Linked DNA regions of Homo sapiens. The protein of the gene in region 2 interacts with the protein of the main gene of each other region in a biochemical or structural test. Each region holds a gene or a part of one and is shown on either strand. Other genes may lie near its edges.

The links. Proteins that work in one complex are often made in the same cells at the same time.
Region 1: the proteins of RADIL (region 2) and MYOZ2 interact in a test that uses a peptide from one of them, tested with the Homo sapiens proteins (one large-scale study listed by IntAct).
Region 3: the proteins of RADIL (region 2) and SLC22A3 interact in a test that uses a peptide from one of them, tested with the Homo sapiens proteins (one large-scale study listed by IntAct).
Region 4: the proteins of RADIL (region 2) and TMEM178B interact in a test that uses a peptide from one of them, tested with the Homo sapiens proteins (one large-scale study listed by IntAct).

What each region holds. Positions count from the first base shown.
Region 1 is NC_000004.12:119,183,981-119,188,775, reverse strand, and holds the end of MYOZ2 (myozenin-2), read right to left. Parts: intron 2,811-4,795; coding exon 2,576-2,810; 3' UTR 987-2,575; downstream 1-986.
Region 2 is NC_000007.14:4,799,645-4,803,716, forward strand, and holds part of RADIL (ras-associating and dilute domain-containing protein), read right to left. Parts: coding exon 3,902-4,072; intron 2,352-3,901; coding exon 2,009-2,351; intron 667-2,008; coding exon 527-666; intron 126-526; coding exon 1-125. UniProt on the Homo sapiens protein: Downstream effector of Rap required for cell adhesion and migration of neural crest precursors during development.
Region 3 is NC_000006.12:160,346,626-160,352,121, reverse strand, and holds the start of SLC22A3 (solute carrier family 22 member 3), read right to left. Parts: upstream 3,745-5,496; 5' UTR 3,703-3,744; coding exon 3,274-3,702; exon of another isoform or gene 3,100-3,273; coding exon of another isoform or gene 3,064-3,099; intron 3,043-3,063; exon of another isoform or gene 2,937-3,042; intron 2,465-2,936; exon of another isoform or gene 1,452-2,464; intron 1-1,451.
Region 4 is NC_000007.14:141,076,713-141,081,507, reverse strand, and holds part of TMEM178B (transmembrane protein 178B precursor), read right to left. Parts: intron 1-4,795.

The sequences.
Region 1 (4,795 bases), on a different chromosome or scaffold from region 2:
TTTGTAATGCCATCCTTACAGAATAATTATGAAAATGCAATATTAAATATATTAAATTGCCTTTATAAGGAAATGACTACAGTGTCTGACATTTAGTACTCCAGCAACAAATTTTTATTCTTTTACCTTTTTAAAAAATATTTTTTCTCCTTTTTTCCATATCTTATTTATACAAAAGCAGGTGGAAAAAATGTCGCGGTCTTTCTGTTGTTCTAAAGAGACTATCATATTTCTTTTGACTTTGAAAGATTTAGCTGTTTTTCAGGTTAATGGAAAACCCATTCAAAATTCCTTTTGAATTCTGAATTATGTAACAACCAGAGTGAAATGCTGGCCTTTCTAAAGGTGTCAGCTGAGCTAGAATTAATAGACACTTCCCAGAAAGAAAGAAATAAAATAGTGAACAGAGGGTTATTTTTTCTTTTTCTACCTAATCTTTTTAAAAAAATAAGTATCACTTAGGATTTTCCTTTTTTTCTTTTGAGACGGAGTCTTGCTCTGTCGCCCAGGCTGGAGTGCTGTGGCGTGATCTCAGCTCACTGCAAGCTCCGCCTCCCGGGTTCATGCCATTCTCCTGCGTCAGCCTCCAGAGTAGCTGGAACTACAGGCCTCGACCACCACGCCTGGCTAATTTTTTTGTATTTTTAGTAGAGACAGGGTTTCACCGTGCTAGCCAGGATGGTCTCAATCTCCTGACCTCGTGATCCGCCCACCTCGGCCTCCCAAAGTGCTGGGATTACAGGCGGAGCCACCGCACCTGGCCAGGATTTTCCTTTTTAAATTATCTTTTATGATACTGGGGAGTACTGTTCTGTAGCTAACATACTTAATTGCTGGCCTCTACTTTCAGTGGTTGGCAGAATAGGGACAGTGATCATATAGTTTATATTTGGAAATGGTTGAAATAATGCAAAAAGATTTCATTTTCATTAAAAATAATGACTCATTTCATGATGTTAATAAAGAATTAAACCATTTCATCAAAATGCATAATTAATATGCCTAATTTTTATTTTTTAAAGATTAAAATGAACAAAAAATGGCATGATGGGAGCCTCATTGATAGTTTATCACAGATGCCAACATTATCATTTTAAAACAGGTAAACACCAAAACTTATAAATAAAATTAAGATATCTTAAGACATCTTTAAAAATATACAAATTCTCTACAATAATATATATAAATATAATACTTTGTCATTGTTACTTTCTGGGGGTTATATTTTCATAAGCAAATTTTTAAAATTTTTCTACTTAACAAGTCTAGATGATGATTAAAACAGTCACCAACTTCCACACTACAAACACAGATTTTTTTTTGTAAACATGTAATGTTGCAACTTGGTATTTTCATTACTACACACAGTCCTTCTTCCTATCTCCTAAACTTTATCTGATAGTTTTCTATTGATGAGACATTTCTTCTCTGCTATAAACATCTATCACAGAAGTCTTAACTGAATTGAAATGGGAGGAATTGATACTGATTTCTATAAGTTATATGTCATATGCTTCTTCAATTATATTTTAAGATATAACTATAACTTTATATTAGTTTGTGTCTTTTATGTCAATATATTACATATATTACGATAGATATGTGCTACATTGCTTTCAGATACTTTCATGCCCTTTGTTTTTGTTTGTGTCCTAAAGCATGTACTCCCCAGTTACTTGAGGATCTTAACAGAATTTAAAGATTTAGCAAAGAAAGCTGCCAATTCAAATTACTTACTCTTTCCTTCTCTCACAAACATGAATGTATTTATATGTATATTACGGTGTACTTTATTTGTTCTTACTCTTCTAAGAATGCACACATAAAGTTGAACATAATCAATGCACAGCATTGGGATTTGTGAAACTTGAATTCTGGGCACACCTTGGTCCTTAAAACTATGGTACTATGACGTCCCTTGAGTCATTCTCAGTCTCCTTGACTTAATGCTAAATGAATATAATAACTGAATTGAATTTTGGAGAATATCATCCAGAATAAATTACCTAATGATTCAAAACATATTGAAAAGTGCAAAGCACTTTAGAATTCTAAGAGTGACTAATGAAAAGACTTCATCAAGACATATTATTTTCTCATGGTCACCAGAAAGGACACACCCAACCATTTTCTCCATCAATAACATTTGTACATCATCTTCCATAGCTTTCATCCCCAGATGAAACTCTGAATAGGTCTTCATATCTCTCCCTGTATTTTGATTCTAGATTCCACTTGAAAAACTTACACTGTAATAAATCATATAAAATGAGACAAAGGTGAAACTGTCAATTACTTTTCCATCTGAACTTTTGCAGTAAAATATCTGGATTCTTTAAACCAGGTGAAAACAAAATTATGAATGAAGACAAGTGAGTTATAAGTTTTTTAAAGTAAGATTTCTAATTGTTTATTAGTATTTGATCTGAGATTGAAATTGAATGTCAGAAAAGGAAAATCACTAAATTGCTATTGTTGCTACTAATGAAAAATGCAAGTGGCTTTGCCAGTAGTTAAAATAGTAGAACAGCAACTTTTATATTCAGAGTTTTATGTGGCACATACAACTTTCTTTTCATAGGTCTTCTGATTCTGGTACAGTGGTATCATCTGTAGGTTCGGTTGTTATCACTATAGGAATATTCTCAGATATCCATCCCTTAGGAGTCCTATTAAAGGACCGTCTGCCAGAAAGGGGATTGACAAAGGACATAAACCTGGGATCTGTTAGCAATAGTAGCTCAAAATCTGGAACTTTAAATTTAACCATTCTTGATGCTTTTTCAAAACCTCCAAATGGTGTGGCAACCCTGTGGGAAATTAAAAAAAAAACAGATCTCAATTAATATTCAAATTTGTCAAAATAGAAAACAATTTCATAATTTTATAGGCATGATTTTATGGGTGTATTTAATTCATTATTTTATGGGCTTACTTATATTCTATGAATGACTGTCATTTTGTGACCTCTGAGGCAAGCATTTCTACTTTAAAGACCATGTTTTTATGAAAAACCAAATATTGATAACAAATTCATTGAAGTTCATTTGTATATACTATTAGTTTTGGACTAATCTATTCCCTGTACACTGAGCTCATTACAGACATGTCTTGCCTTTGTACTTTTACCAACAATATTTCCCCTATTCAAGATATTTCTAGGCCGGGCGTGGTGGCTCATGCCCATAATCCCAGCACTTTGGGAGGCCGAGGCAGGAGGATCACCTGAGGTCAGGAGTTCAAGATCAGCCTGGCCAACATGGCAAAATCCTGTCTCTACTAAAATTACAAAAATTAGCCGGGCATGGTGGCGGGCACCTGAAATCCCAGCTACTCAGGAGGCTGAGGCAGGAGAATGACTTGAACCCAGGAGGCGGAGGTTGCAGTGAACCAAGATCATGCCACTGCACTCTAGCCTGGGTGACAGAGTGAAACCTGTCTAAAAAGAAAAAAAAAAGATATTCCCTGCTGGGTGCATTGGCTTACACCTGTAATCCCAAGTACCTGGGATGCTGAAGCAGGAGAATCACTTGAGCCCAGGCGTTTGAGACCAGCGTGGGTGATATAGCAAGACCTCATCTCAGAAAAAAAGAAAGAAAGAAGGAAAGGAGAAGGGAAAGGAAACGAAAGGAAAAAAAGAAAAGGAAAGGGAAGGGGAGGGGAGGGGAAGGGAAGGGAGAGGGGAGAAGAGGAAAGAAAAGGAAAATAAAAGAGAGGCAGTTTCCTCCCTGACTTCTCCACTTGTGTATGTCCTATAGTCTTGCAGTTCTAACTTCCTTCAAACTATCCCTGCCCACTTTCTTAGCCACATTCCTGCAGCATCAATTGTTCTATGTCAGTCATTTGCTACTAATGAAATGGTGCTTTGTATTGAGCTTCTCCTTTTAAGAATGTGGATTATCTGTTTGGGTTATCTGTGAATTATAAACTCTTTTAGGTCAAGCAGTATGTCTGTTGCATCTTTCTACCTCAAAAACCTTAGCATTCTTCCACTTGTCTTCTGAATAAAGCCCAACTTCTATATCTTGTCATTCAAGATCCCACATAACTTTTTTGCTTTGTTTGATTTAAGCATTTGATTACTCATTCAGTGCCAGACAGAGTTTCAAGTGTGCAGTATAATCAAAGTCTTAGTTCTTACATTCTAGTGAAAGAGACCCTAAACATAAACATATACAAAAATATCTGATGGTGATAGCAGCTATGCATAAAGTTAAAATAGGGTGTTATAATATTGAATAACTGAATTACTAAAAAGTTATTTCAGATAGAATCACCAGGGAAGACTTCTCTGAAGAGGCGACATTTAAACAGCCATCTGAAGGTCAGAAGTTAGACATGTACAGTATGGCTAAAGTACATCAGCACTTCCAGTAGACAGGATAGCTAATGCCAAGAACCCTAAGGCAGAAATAATGTTGGCGTGTTCAAGGAAACAAAGAAGGCTTATGTTCCTAGGCTAGCAGGTGAGGGTGGGGCAGAGGGAACAGGGGACAGAGAGGTAAACTTGTGTGGGACTTTTTCTAAATAAGGAATATGGATTTCCTTCTAAATGTGAAGGGCAACCATTGTAGGATGGTAAGCAGGAGATTATATAACCTAATTACATTTTATAAGGGTCATTCTGGCTGCTATTGCTGTGTGAACAGATTATAAGAAGACAACAGTGCCAGTGGTTCGCACCTGTAATCCCAGCACTTTGGGAGGAGAAGGTGGATGGATCACCTGAGGTCGGGAGTTCGAGACCAGCCTGACCAACATGGAGAAACCCATCTCTACTAAAAATACAAAAAAT
Region 2 (4,072 bases):
CCCAGGAGGCTGCTGCCATTCACCTCCAGGATACGGTCCCCCAGCGACAGGCGCCCGTCGGCCGCTGCGGGGCTGCCCGGGAGCAGGGTCTGGATGTAGAGCCCGGGGGCGCCCAGGTGCGTGTGCTGGGGACAAGCAGAGGCCTCAGAGCTCCGCAGGCCCGACTGGCTGTCCCCAGCGAGGACCACTGCAGCCCCTCCCTTGGCACCTACAGGCCCCCGCCTGGCATCCAGCCAGGCCCACTCATGGTTTCACGCGTCCCTCCAGAAAAGCAGTGGACACCACCGTCCCCACAGGCCCAGGACAGACCCCAAAGGCTTGAGGACAGAGGCAAGAGACAGCAGGCCCAGGGGGCGTGGCCGTTGGACAGGCTGGGTTCCCCTCCCAGCTGCAGAGGCCAACCCCACTCTCCTCCCCGAAGGCCTTCCTGTAGCCACGTGGCCACGCAAGCTGCGGCCAGGCTTGCATGAACAGGCGGGGCCAGGCAGCCAGTATGGGGGTGCGGCGAGGGTCCTGGGCCACTCACCATCCCGTCGATCAGGCCCATCCCCAGCCCGGAGGGGCCTCGTTCCAGCTCCACCGTGAAGACGTAGCAGAAGTCCTCGGTGCTGGAGCTGCGGCTGGACGGGGCTGGAGGGGACTCCTCCGCAAGGGCTGCAGAGTCTCCTGGGTGGGGGCCAGGAAAGGTGGGTGGGAGTGAGGCGCCAGGAATCACGACGAGGAATGGGATGTCCTGGCCTGGCTGCCTCTGTAGGGCGTCAGGGATGGGATGGCCTCCTGTGGCTCCCAGGAGACGCTGTTCAGGCAGAATGTGACCGGCAACCCAGACATTAGGGTCGGGGTCCGCCCATGGGCGACACCCCCATGTTCCCTGAGGGAGCACCTCAGTCCCCGCCCCTGGCAGTCCCAGGACACTCGCCCCTCTGGGGGCGGCTGTTTTCCAGCTCCAGGGACCCACGCGGTTCTGTGCCACCTCCTCAGCAATCTCTGCTCCTCCTCCTCCTCCCTCCACACCCAGATGTGGCCATGTGCACCCTGAGGGTTCCCACCGCTGACCAGACCGGGGCCCCAGGCCCTAGCCCAGCCCAGCCCAAGCACCTGCCCTGAGGGCCACCAGCTGGTGCCCTCTCCATAATGGTGATCCTGCCGTGGGTGCACTTAGGTCAGAGATGAGCTGTGCACCTGAGCAAGTGGCCTGCCTGGGACCCAGCTTGGCCAGGTGGCCCCAAGCCACAGGGGACACTCTGACTCTGCACACGCACCCAGGACACTTCGCTCCTGCAAGGCACACCCAAGCCCCTCACAGGAGGCCAGGGCCGGCTGGGGCTGCCTCACCCTCAATGCCCTCCCCAGCCTAGGCCAGCTGCGCACACACACTCATGCACACATATACTCACAGCCATGCACACATGTGCAAGCATGCCCATGCACACGTGCACTTACACCCATGCACAGATGCACACACAATGCACACCATGCAGACACACCCATGCAGAGATGCACACACAATGCACACCATGCAGACACACCCATGCAGATGCACACACCCATGCACACACGCACCAGCACACCCATGCACCTGTGAGCACACATATCCACACGCACAAGCACACAGGCACACACAGGCCCTGCCCTGGAGGACTCCAGCTCCACCTTCTCCCTGAAGACCCCTGGGTTCCCCCTCAGCACATCCTCTCCACTGGCTCAGCCATCCCTTCCTCTGCCCAGTGCAGGAGTGACTCTGAGCCACTTTCTAGACTCTCTCCCTCCCAGATCACAGTGAGTATCTGCCCAAGACGTGTCAGCGACTGAGCGACCGTGTGGCCCAGCTGCTGGGGGCTGAGCAGCCCTGAGCCCTCTCCATCTGGCCCCGTCTCAGGTTGCAGGTGTCTGTGGGGCAGGTAAGGAAACCTAGGACCCAAGGGGGGAACGATCCCAGGGGACCGGCCATCAGGGTGCTGTGCGGGGTCTGGGGTGGGTTCCCGCCTGAGCACCAGGCAGGGCTCACCTTCCGGAGCTGCACCCCGGAGGCCGCTGAGTCCGTTCCTCTGCCTCTCTGGGAGCGCTTTTCCACAGGGGCCGCCGGACTCTGGCCAGTCGGGGTCCCCAGGCTCAGGGCCAAGTGGAGTGCTGGGAGGCGTGAGCAAGCAGGACGAGTCCGTGTGCGGGGGGCCAGCCTGGGAGCCCCCACGGCTGGGTTGCCTTCCAGGGGGGGCCTGTGCCCAGGGAGCCCCCCTCAAGGGAAGAGTACGCTCCGGGGCCACTTCCCGGGCTGCTGGGCCAGGGTCCCTGGGAGCCAGGGGGCAGCTCGGGGCCTCCAGGTGCCCGTCAAGGACCACGTGGTGCATACCCTAGGGAGAGGAAGGGTGACAGCTCAGGTAGAGGAGTGGCCAGGTGGACACAGCACTCGGGCAACTGGGCAGCCTGCAGCAGAAGGGCCGCCAGGCCGCGGGGCAGAGGTCAGCAAAGGACTCCCGCAGCCTGTGCAGCTTGAGACGCGCAAGAGGCAAAGGGGCTTCCCCGCCATCCGGAGCACAGCCTGCGCTGGGCCAGGACTCCCGGGGTTCCCAGAGCTCCCGCCTGCTGCCCCCAGCCCAGCTTCCAACCCTTCTCCTGTCCTCCCGGGCACCTCGGGGCACGCTGGCTGGGGGGCCCCCTCCCCAGGTACCTCGGGGCATGCTGGCTGGGCCCCCTCCCCGGGTACCTCGGGGCACGCTGGCTGGGGGGCCCCCTCCCCGGGTACCTCGGGGCACGCTGGCTGGGCCCCCTCCCCGGGCACCTCGGGGCACGCTGGCTGGGCCCCCTCCCCGGGCACCTCGGGGCACGCTGGCTGGGGGGCCCCCTCCCCAGGTACCTCGGGGCATGCTGGATGGACCCCCTCTCTGGGCACCTCAGGGAATGCTGGCTGGACCCCCTCCCCGGGCACCTCGGGGCACTCTAGCTGGGGGGCCCCCTCCCCGGGTACCTCGGGGCATGCTGGCTGGACCCCCTCCCCGGGCACCTCGGGGCACTCTGGCTGGGGGGCCCCCTCCCCGGGTACCTCGGGGCACGCTGGCTGGGTCCCCTCCCCAGGCACCTCGGGGCACGCTGGCTGGGCCCCCTCCCCGGGCACCTCGGGGCACGCTGGCTGGGGGGCCCCCTCCCCAGACACCTCGGGTCATGCTGGCTGGACCCCCTCCCCGGGCACCTCGGGGAATGCTGGCTGGACCCCCTCCCCGGGCACCTCGGGGCACTCTGGCTGGGGGGCCCCCTCCCCGGGCACCTCGGGGAATGCTGGCTGGGTCCCCTCCCCGGGCACCTCGGGGCACGCTGGCTGGGGGGCCCCCTCCCCGGGTACCTCGGGGCACTCTGGCTGGGCCCCCTCCCCGGGCACCTCAGGGCACGCTGGCTGGGGGGCCCCCTCCCCGGGTACCTCGGGGCACGCTGGCTGGGTCCCCTCCCCGGGCACCTCGGGGCACGCTGGCTGGGGGGCCCCCTCCCCGGGTACCTCGGGGCACTCTGGCTGGGTCCCCTCCCCGGGCACCTCGGGGCACGCTGGCTGGGGGGCCCCCTCCCCGGGTACCTCGGGGCACACTGGCTGGGCCCCCTCCCCGGGCACCTCAGGGCACGCTGGCTGGGGGGCCCCCTCCCCGGGCACCTCGGGGCACGCTGGCTGGGTGGCCCCCTCCCCGGGCACCTCAGGGCACGCTGGCTGGGTCCCCTCCCCGGGCACCTCGGGGCACGCTGGCTGGGTGGCCCCCTCCCCGGGCACCTCGGGGCACACTGGCTGGGCCCCCTCCCCGGGCACCTCGGGGCACGCTGGCTGGGTGGCCCCCTCCCCGGGCACCTCGGGGCACGCTGGCTGGGTCCCCTCCCCGGGCACCTCGGGGCACGCTGGCTGGGGGGCCCCCTCCCCGGGTACCTCGGGGCACACTGGCTGGGAGGCCCCACTGCCAGGCCTGCCAGGGCTGCCGGGGCTGGCTCTGCTCCGCAGACCCCACAGAAAGTGGCGGACGTAGAGCAGGTGCTGGTAGATGCTGTCGTCCAGGCAGTTGGCTTCCAAGTCCACCTGGAAGCCGTCGCTGGGCAGGAC
Region 3 (5,496 bases), on a different chromosome or scaffold from region 2:
CCACCAAATGAAAGCACAGCCTCCCCATCTGCCAGTCTGGCTGACTGTGGATCCTGACACCGTAAAATGAAACAAAGTAGCCCATTGGAGGACCATGATAGTAAGAAAATAAATACAAAGTTTCAACGAGGTTTCTGCAGGTTATAAAGTGTGAGAGATCTGAGTACTATGTTTCATGGACTTGCTTGAAGGATTTTGAGCACTTTATGGAGGAAAGTGGACTGACTTACAATCAAGGCCCCCGGATTTGAATCCAGTTTGGCTACATAAATGGCGTGGGACCCTGGAAGGTCCTCAGGTCTCTCTTCTATGAAGCCAGGACAATGATACCCCTCCCACCATGGTGCAAGGATGAAGTATTATAGCTATATGGAGGCATTCTGGAGTCTGGTCATCCCGCCCACTTTGTAAACTCTCCCAATTCACCCCTTTGCATGATTTGTATCTTAGGCTTCAAGTTTATAAAAATACACTGGATACATAATGTTAGCTGAAGATGGAACTACAGTTCCTTTCATCAGACAGAATTTGAAAGAAAAAAATTAGTTGAACCAAAGACAGCAAAATATTAGCTATGCAGAATTCAGAGAGTTGCTGACTTGTTTTGGATAGTTGAACTTTATGAATAGATGGGGGTTTTCCTCTTAAGAAACCAAACATGAAAAACAAACCAAAAGAAGCACAAAACTATTTGGAATTTAAAAAGAGGCTGGGCGCGGTGGCTCACACCTGTAATCCCAGCACTTTGGGAAGCCAAGGCGGGCGGATCACGAGGTCAGGAGATCGAGACCATCCTGGCTAACACAGTGAAACCCCGCCTCTACTAAAAATACAAAAAATTAGCCGGGCATGGTGGCAGTCGCCTGTAGTCCCAGCTATTCGGGAGGCTGAGGCAGGAGAATGGCAGGAACCTGGGAGGCGGAGCTTGCAGTAAGCCGAGATCACGCCACTGCACACCAGCCTGGGCGACAGAGAGAGACTCCGTCTCAAAGAAAACAAAACAAAACAAAACAAAAAAGAATCTCTCCAATATATTTCAAAAACTTTTTTGGGGCTTTACGGGGTACATTCCTAATATCATTCTACTTTCTTAAAGACTTTTTAATCATTGTTCTGGGCACACCAAACAGTAACCAGGTGGTGACCCTGATGGCATTTGGAGCATTGTAACGGGCTGAATCCAATGGCTAATTTTACAGAGGAAAAATACAAGCCCAGAGAAGGCGAGTAACTCACCCAAGCCACACAGCCAGCTGGAGACCGAGCCAGCCCCTGACCCTCCATCATTCCACACTGCATTTTAGTAGCCACTGATCTTCATAAAATCACCTTATTGTAACCCCGGGATGCTAGTAACCCTGCAACTCCAGAATGCTTCCAAAGTATCCGTCAGAGCATTAAATTACAGATTTTTATGTCTGTCTTCTTTGATGTCCATGGATCATACTCACTCATGCAAACCTCGCTTGAGCACTTGTTGAGGCTCGTTTTATTCTTCATCTTTAAATGTCTCCAAAAATCAGCTGTCTGCCCTCCATGTGGGTCCTCTGGTTCACTTGGGAAGTAAGCATTAGGCAGCGCTGCTGAGTGGAGTGGAAGAAGCCACCTAACAGATGCGACTCACAGAGATAATGCCCTCTCTCATCCAAGTCCATGCCCTGTCCTTTCAACTGTGAAATCTCTAACCAGACCATCACCAATTATAAAGCAGTCCCCAGCCTTACCATGGATTAAGTAGAAATTAAAGATCCCAACACACATATGTATTGCCTGGCTGTCTTGCCAGGGGGGTTTATCCTGAGATCACTCAGCATAGAGCCACTCAGTGTGCGAACACACTTGCATGTGGCATTATAGAAACACCCTGAACACACATACACATTGCCTGGCTGTCCTGCCAGGGGGTTTTATCCCTGGAGCACTTAGCATAGAGCCATCCACTGTGCGAACACAGCAGCACACGGCGTTACAGAAAGATCCCAAACACATACACACATCGCCTGGCTGTCCTGCCATGGGTTTTATCCCTGGAGCACATAGCATAGAGCCATCCACTGTGCGAACACACCAGCACATGGCGTATAAAACATGTACAATTGCAACCACCGACACTCCCAACTGCAGCGAGATAAGCTCACCAGACCAACAGCAACAGCGGCAGAAAGGGCGCTCCTACCTCCTCATCCAGTGTTTTCCCCACTCTTCAAGTAGGTGATTTTTTAAAGTTTATCACAAAAAAAAGACAAACCTTTTTTCCTAATGTACCTGATCACATTCAATCTTTTTTTAAAATTAACTTAAGCTGTGATTGTAGACAAAGCTCAGTAAAACTGCTCATCTCTGCAACCCATGCTCAATTGAGGCCGTTTCTGAGTTCCGATTATTACAAAGTGACTCTGCTCTATATCTGGACCTCACAGAGAGGCAATCTTCCATTTCAGCAAGGATGCAGAAACAGATTACTGAGGGCAAGGGTGAAGGAAGCTCCCCTAACTTCCAAATGCACTGACTGCCCAAAATGTGGGGATCGCCCCCGCCCACCCGCCGGCAGCAGCCTCCGCCTGTAAATGGGTTGGGGATTTGCGTTGGAAGGCTGTGGCCCTCCCGCTATGTTCCTAAAATTTATTACCAGAAAAAAAAACTAAAATTTATCCAATACTTCAGTTTTCCCAACTTATCCCAGATGTTGCTCTTTGCCCCAAAGCAATTTTACCAAAACCATTCCCCGGGAAAGCCTCGACCTTTGTCCCCTTGCATTTTGAGTAACCATTTGGGCAACTGGAAAAAAGCTGCTGCTGCCTTCAAACGTTGGTTCGCCCTTTCCTTTGACCCTGGAGACCATAAGCGAATCCGGAACTGCCAACGTCGCTCACCCCAGAGACTGAAGTTCCCTATCGCGCACCTAACCATAATTTCCAATGACGGCGCCCGCACACCTCAAAGATAAGGAACGCGGTGCTGGGTCTTTGACTCCTGAGCAGGCGTGCGCCAGGCGTTTACAACTCGGCTTCGAAGAAAGTTTTTGTTCACACCCGAAACCAAAGTATCTGTGCATTAACTCACGGGCTCAGGCAGATAACGAAAGGCTTTTCCCAGCATTTACGACGCGGCACTTCCAAGGGTGCGCTGAATCCTGTCTGTCCCCAGAGGTAGCCGACCGGTCCCCGTCTCCACCGACCTCCCCTGGCGGCCAGCGTCTCACACGCGGCTTGTCCGCCTGGGAGCCAGCATCGTCCTCTCCCGCCGGCTTCCAAAGGGCCGGGGCGCCCTTACCTCGCTGACGATGGTGGAGTGGGCCTGGGCGTAGCGCCAGCCGCCGCGGCACGGCACAAGGGGAGCCGAGCGGTTGGGGAAGGCGGCGAGTGGGTCCGCGCAGCTGAGAGCGCTAGTGGCGGAGGCGCTGTCGTTGGCCGCCTCCAGGAGGTAGCGCTGGCAGCGGCCGCGGCGCTCGGGGGGCTCTGGGCCGCGGGAGGCGGGCGCCGTGCGGTTCCACTCCTCCTCCGGGCTCCAGCCGCAGCGCTCGGCCAGCGCCGCGGCACTTGGCCCGCGGCACCAGTAGTGGTCGGGCTGCGTGCCCAGGAAGACCACGCCGACGAAGAGGAAGGCGAAGGTGACGCCCGTCAGGCACAGCAGCAAAAACACGCGCCTCTGGAAGCGCCCGAACTCGCCCACCCGCTGCAGCGCCTCGTCGAAGGAGGGCATGGTGCGCCCGCCGCCCGCCGCCCGCAGCCCGCGCCTCGGAGTGACCCGCGGACCCAGCCGGCGGCCTCTCTTTACTCCGCCGCCTCCCCCGCGCCACCCGCCTCACTCGCCCTGGCGCTGTGCCGGCCGCAGCCGCTCCTCCTGCCCCCCGCGGCCCCCGCCTCTCTTCCCCGGGCGCCCGCAGCAGCCCCGGGCCACAGGTCGCGGGAGGGACGGCCGCGAGCCGGACGCACCCGGCCGGGGTGGGCGCGCGGTGGGGCTCGGGCGGTGCGGCCTGACTACGCGCCAGGGACCCGGCCGGGACCGCGAGTGACGGGCGCAGCCTCCGGCCTGGCGCGGAGCTCCTTTTGGTCCCTGCCAGCAGCCTGCTCTGCAGTCAGCCCCAGGTCGGGCTCCAGAAGAAGAAAGTTCCAGGGTCACCCGACCACTCCCGGAACTTCTGGGACCCGATCTCTCAGCGGCCCGGAGTGCAGCCCGGGGACTAAGGACGCGCGCGCGCGCCCCGGGTCCGGTGCCTGTGCCCGGGAGAGCCCCCTCCAGCCCTTGGCCCTTGCGCGTGCGGAGGCCTCCTGCGCCCATGTGGGGCAGGGCAGGGCAGGGCAGGGCAGGGCAGGGCAGGGCAGGGCAGGGCTGCCCGTTCCCAGCACAGCGCTGGCCATCGCCCTCGACCCATCGAGAGCTACAACTTGGGATTTGATCACCCAACTTTCCCCAGAGGGCAGCCGGGCAACCCACACAGGCGAAGGGGCTTGCTCAGCGTCCAGGAGGTTTGGGGTGAGAAGGGATCGCCTCAAGGCCAGGCCTGATGCAGACCTCCTTCGCCAGGGCCTTCCCACCCACCTTCGGTCTGAACGCCAGGGAAGGGTGTTGGTGGTTGGTTTGAATCCTGGTTTTTCCGCTTACTTATTGCGCCTGCCAATTCGGCAGAGCGCGATCAGAACTTCCCGCCCAGGCTGCCCAGGCTGCTGGGTCCATGCTGGGACGCCTTCCCCGGGCTGGGTCGCGGTCCCCCCACGCCCCCACGTTATCGGCCCACGTTCTGCCTTTAGCTCACTTTTCTCCAAGGCCTTGGGAGGACTTGCGGTTCCTCCTCCGGAACAAGGAGTTTGAAGCCAGGCTGCTTGGATTCAAACTGGCCTCATGTCCTCACCAGCAGTTTCAACTGCCCGCTGGACCCCAGACTCAGTCTGTCCCCCTCCAACCCAGCTCCCCTTTCCTGCCCTGCCTTTCGGTGCAACCATGTCCTGGGCCCAGACTCAGAACCTCAGTATGGCGGGGACACCACTCACTCCTCAGGCCTGTACTCTTAGGTCATCTCGGCTTGGAACCCCTTTTGCCAATGTTGGAGCTCAGAAAACAATACGCCAAAATGAAGGCCTCAGAAGCAGTCTCTGTGTCATCTTCTGCCCTCCTGTCTCTCGGTCCCATTCTCCCCCAGGCTAGCCATCGAAACCAGAACGCTTTTCCCCAAAGCCAGTCATAAAACAAAAATATCACTGTGATTTTCCCTCACTTGTCTGTGTAAAAACTGGCCATAAAGAAATCAACTGTTCTACCTTGTTGATTGCAGTCCTAAGACCTCCCATTCCACAGAAGAACCTGCCCCTTACCCAGAAGGAAAAAAAGGCTGCTCAGAGAGGCCAAGAAGAATCTAGAGCCACCGGCCTCGCTGGGTTTCCTCACTCAGTATCAGCATCAGATCACACCCTTTTGGTCCAATCCTATTTCGACAGGGCTCTCCATGTTTTGTTGAACCTAAGCATAAAACTAGGCAATTTCCCCTGTATCTTTGGG
Region 4 (4,795 bases), about 140 Mb from region 2:
TGTGCCACCATGCCTGGTTAATTTTTTGTATTTTTAGTAGAGACGGGGTTTCACCATGTTGGCCAGGCTGGTTTCGAACTCCTGACCTCAGGTGATCCACCCACCTCAACCTCCAAAGTGCTGGGATTACAGGTGTGAGCCACTGCACCCAGGCTCTTTCTTTATATCCTTATCCTATAAGCTTTTTTCTGTTTATAAAATTTTTTATTTTTCAACTTTTGAAACGTTTTTGTTAAAAACTAAGACACACACACACACACATTAGCCTAAGCCTGCAGAGGGTTGGGATCATCAATCTCGCTGTCTTCCACCTCCACATTTTAGCCCACTGGAAAGTCTTCAGGGGCAATGGTGCACATGGAGCTGTCACCTCCTGATAACAATGCCTTCTTCTGGAATACCTCCTGAAGGACCCACCTGGGGCTGTTTTACAGTTAACTTTTTTTTATAAGCAGAAGGAGTACACTCTAAAACAATGATTAGAAGTATAGCATAGTAAATATATAAACCAGTAACAGTCATTTTATTATCAAGTATTACATACTGTACATAATTGTTTGTGCTAGACTTCTATACCGCCGGCAGTGCAGTAGCTTTGTTTACACCAGCCTCAACCCAAACACAGGAGTAATGGGTTGCTGCACTGTGACATCTATGATGTCACTAGGCCATAAGAATTTTTCAGCTCCATGATAACCTTATGAGACCACTGCAGTCTGTCTTTAACCAAAATGTTACAGGGCACATGACTGCATTTCATTTTTGCCTTACTTGTCATTCTTCCCCTTTGCGCTTCGTAAGGGCAGACCTTCATGGTGCCCATTACCCTGTGCTATATTACACGATTCATATATTAGATATTATTTTTACTCTATGACTATTTTTCTTCAGATGGAGTCTCGCTCTATCACCCAGGCTGGGGTGCAGTAGCACGATCTCGGCTCACTGCAACCTCCGCTTCCTGGATTCAAGCCATTCTCCTGCCTCAGCCTCTCGAGTAGCTGGGATTACAGGCATGCGCCACCACACCCAGCTAATTTTTGTATTTTCTGTAGACACAGGGTTTCAACCATGTTGGCCAGGATGGTCTCAATCTCTTGACCTCGTAATCCGCCCTCCTCAGCCTCCCAAAATTCTGGGATTACAGGCGTGCGCCACCGTGCCCAGCCGTGGAGTATTTATTTATTGTCCGTCTCTCCCCTCTGGAATGTAAGCTTCTCCATTTGGTCCAACACTGTACCTGATGCACAGCCCAAAGGCCCTCAATAAATACTTGTTGAATGAATGAATGTGTCCTTCATGTCTATAATTTCAGCATCTACCACAGCAAGCGAAGTAAATAAGCAAAAGTTATATGACAAAATGTGTATGCACTTTGGTCAGTGAGCTTCAAAACAGGGTGTGTGAGCCACTCTCATTACTTCAATTTAGAATTGAGATTCCAAGAGTATTATTTCCTTTTTATTCTCAATTTGTGGAATCAATATCCCAGTTTCTTCTCCACCTCACTCCTGCCCCGATAGATTCTAAGATGATGGTAGAGTGTGGTGGGTGAGTTCCCACATCCAGAGCCAGAATTCAAATTCTGACACCTTTGTTTCCTAACTAACTGTGAGAATTCACAAGTTATCTGACCTTTCTGTGCCTCAGTTCCCTCAAATTTAGGATGAGAATTTAAAATAATACTTATACTTCCTAGGGTTATTATGAACAATAAATTAGCTAATACATATAAAACTTTTAGGAGAGACCTGTCATCAAGATTGGCTATAATTATCATTAATCTCTTTCCCACCCCACCAACTTTGCAAGTGATGTTTAATGGAGATGGAGAGGGCAGGAGGGAAGAAGGGAGAAGCTTGTGAGAATTCTGTGAGTTGATGATAGAAAATTAAAATATAAATTTACTATAATTGACCATGAACTAAAGCCTTCTGCCCAATATATTCAAGTAGCAGTTTCTTAAAGTGTAGAATGATATACTTAAATTTAAACCCAAGTTATCATGGAATTATACTCATCTGAAACAAAGTTATGTGCTTGGTTCTTTTAGAGGCTATAGGCTCTGCGTGGCGCTGTCCAACAGAATTTTCTCCGATGGTGGGAATGTTCACTGTAATCTGCACTGTCCCATACAATAGCCAGTAGGCACATACGGCTACTGAACATTTGAAATGTGGCCAATACAACTACGGAAATAATTTTTGTTTGTTTGTTTTTTGAGACAGAGTCTCGCTCTGTCACCCAGGCTGGAGTGCAACGGCATGATACCAGATCACCGCAACCTCTACCTCCTAGGTTCAAGCGATTCTCCTGCCTCAGCCTCCTGAGTAGCTGGCATTACAGACACACACCACCATGCCCAGCTAATTTTTGTATTTTTACTAGAGATGGGTTTTCACCATGTTGGCGAGGCTGGTCTCGAACTCCTGAACTCAAGTGATTCACCTGCCTCGGCCTCCCAAAGTGCTGGGATTACAGGCGTGAACCACTGTGCCCAGCCTATTTTATTTAACTTTGGTTATTGTTAACTTGAACAGCCACATGTGGGTTGTGGCTCCCCAACTGGGCAGCATAGCTGTAGGGGATTTGATATACGAGCTCCCTGACTTGGTCCATGGCTGCTCTCCAGCTCCTGGTCTGCTCCTTCTCCTTGCCCCAGAAATCAACACTCACAAGGCCAAACTGCTGTTCCACACCTCTATGGCTGTGCATATGCTGGCCCATTGCCTGAAATATCCTTCCTCCACATCCACCTCCAAACCTTATCAAACATCTTGTTCAGATTTCATTTCCTCAGGACAACTTTCCCTAACCTCCTCCTGCCTACCTCCCGCTACTGCCGACACAATCCACCATCACTTTCTCTGTGTTCCTCTGCATCTGTTTCTGTTGCTGCTCTCATCATCCTGTAGTTGTAACCTATTTTCTCTGACACTAACAGACTATGCAAATTCTGAGGACCAGATCTTATGCATTTCTTCATCCTAGCGATGTGTGCCCATAACACAATACATGTGTAGTAAATATTTGCTGATCCCATTATTAATTTTTAAATATGTGAATGTTTTCTTAAAATTACTTTTGGAGTATTGACAACCACTCTGTGATTATGGGAACTCTTTAAGTCAAAGTCTATTATAAGGCCAATTTTCAAATAATAAAAAGTTCTTAGAGTATCAGTTGAAGTTCTACTTATTTCAAACTATATCAATATAATATTTTAGTACAAACCAAATAATATAATTTTCCCCTTAGAGTTCCCTAGAACAAAATCCTACCTATAACTCCTCCTCCTAAGGGTCTGGAAGTCTCTTGGATTTCAGAAACTGATCTTGTCACTGATCTGTCCCCAGTGCCTGCAGTCACTTACTAGGGAGACATGGATGAGATTTAAAAGCAAGAAGACAAAAGGACCTGATTTAAGACTTGTCATGGATGCCAACAAATGGGAATTCAGGGTAATCTACCCTTGCTGTACCCTATATCCAATCTTACCCCCAAGAAGGAAATAATTAAAACCTTATCCATCATAAAAAATAATGTCCACAAGTGATATGTGTCTGCTTAGTGACATGTTATCCAAAACAGAATTGTCTGTTTTCCTTATTCTTTGGCAAAGCTCAAGAAATCGTCCCTTCATAGATTATGTAGCATTTGTTGCAATATTGACCTGGCCTGACAGCCACACTGTTTCATATTTTCCCATCACGATTTTCTAATTTTTTACTTAAATTCTCACACAAGTGTTTCTATAATTAGAATAAGCTTGGATGGATACATTTCTGTGAACCTAATTTGTATGAAATATTTCCCAAATACCAAGCATCTGGTGAATGTATTTAACAAATGATGGTCTTTCCTGACCTCTAGGAACTTACAGTTTAATAATGCAAACAAATGAATACACAGTGATGAGAAATGCATACGTGTGGGTACAGCATGGCAGAAGGTCCTGGAGGGGAATGGATTTCAGAATGAATATGAATCCAGAGGACTTTACCTTCAAATCAGACATAGATTTGATGTTCGTTTTCTTATTAATTATGTGGTTTTATGTTGAAATGCACAAATAGCACTTTCTAATGTAATGAACATCGATTTAACAAATAACTAAGTTCTTTAGATCATTTAGATAAGTCTCTAATTTTCCTATATATTAACGGATTTTAAAGTCTTTTCTCTGGTTTTCTTTTTCCCTTGCCCATTACATATCTTCCAGAATTTTAATCAAAGTAGATATTTCAAAGAAGACAGAGGTCTGAGATCTCTTTTGCGGTTTCTAATGAATAATGTGAGATAAACATCTTTTTCTAAAATGTCTCATTTAAATATAGGGATATCAGTTTCTCTTTTTAACTTCCTTATAAAATCTGCCCATCTAAGAGGAACACTAAGTGTAAAAATTGTGTTCTATATGTTATTGGAATTGCTTGTGAATTCTACTAATATAACATGCACTTATTTCCAAAATGTGTCTATTGCTGCTCAGAAAAGGAAGATCTGGTTTTCAAAGAGTGTGTGTTGAGGTTAAAAATGAAGATAGTGACCTTAACTCTCTCAAGATTTGTAAGGCTGGCATGTCATCTATCTCAATAATACCTAACAAGAATGTCAAATGGACAGAAACAGCCATGGTAAGCGGGTGCTTGCCGCTGACAGTGATTGCTGTATTTTGGGCGATGGGGAACACCATTTCCATTAGTTCAAGTGAAATACAATGCCCTGCCAACTCTAGGTATCAGTGTATTCAATACCCCTGCTGTGCCATGTCCATTTTCTGTTGCTGCAATTA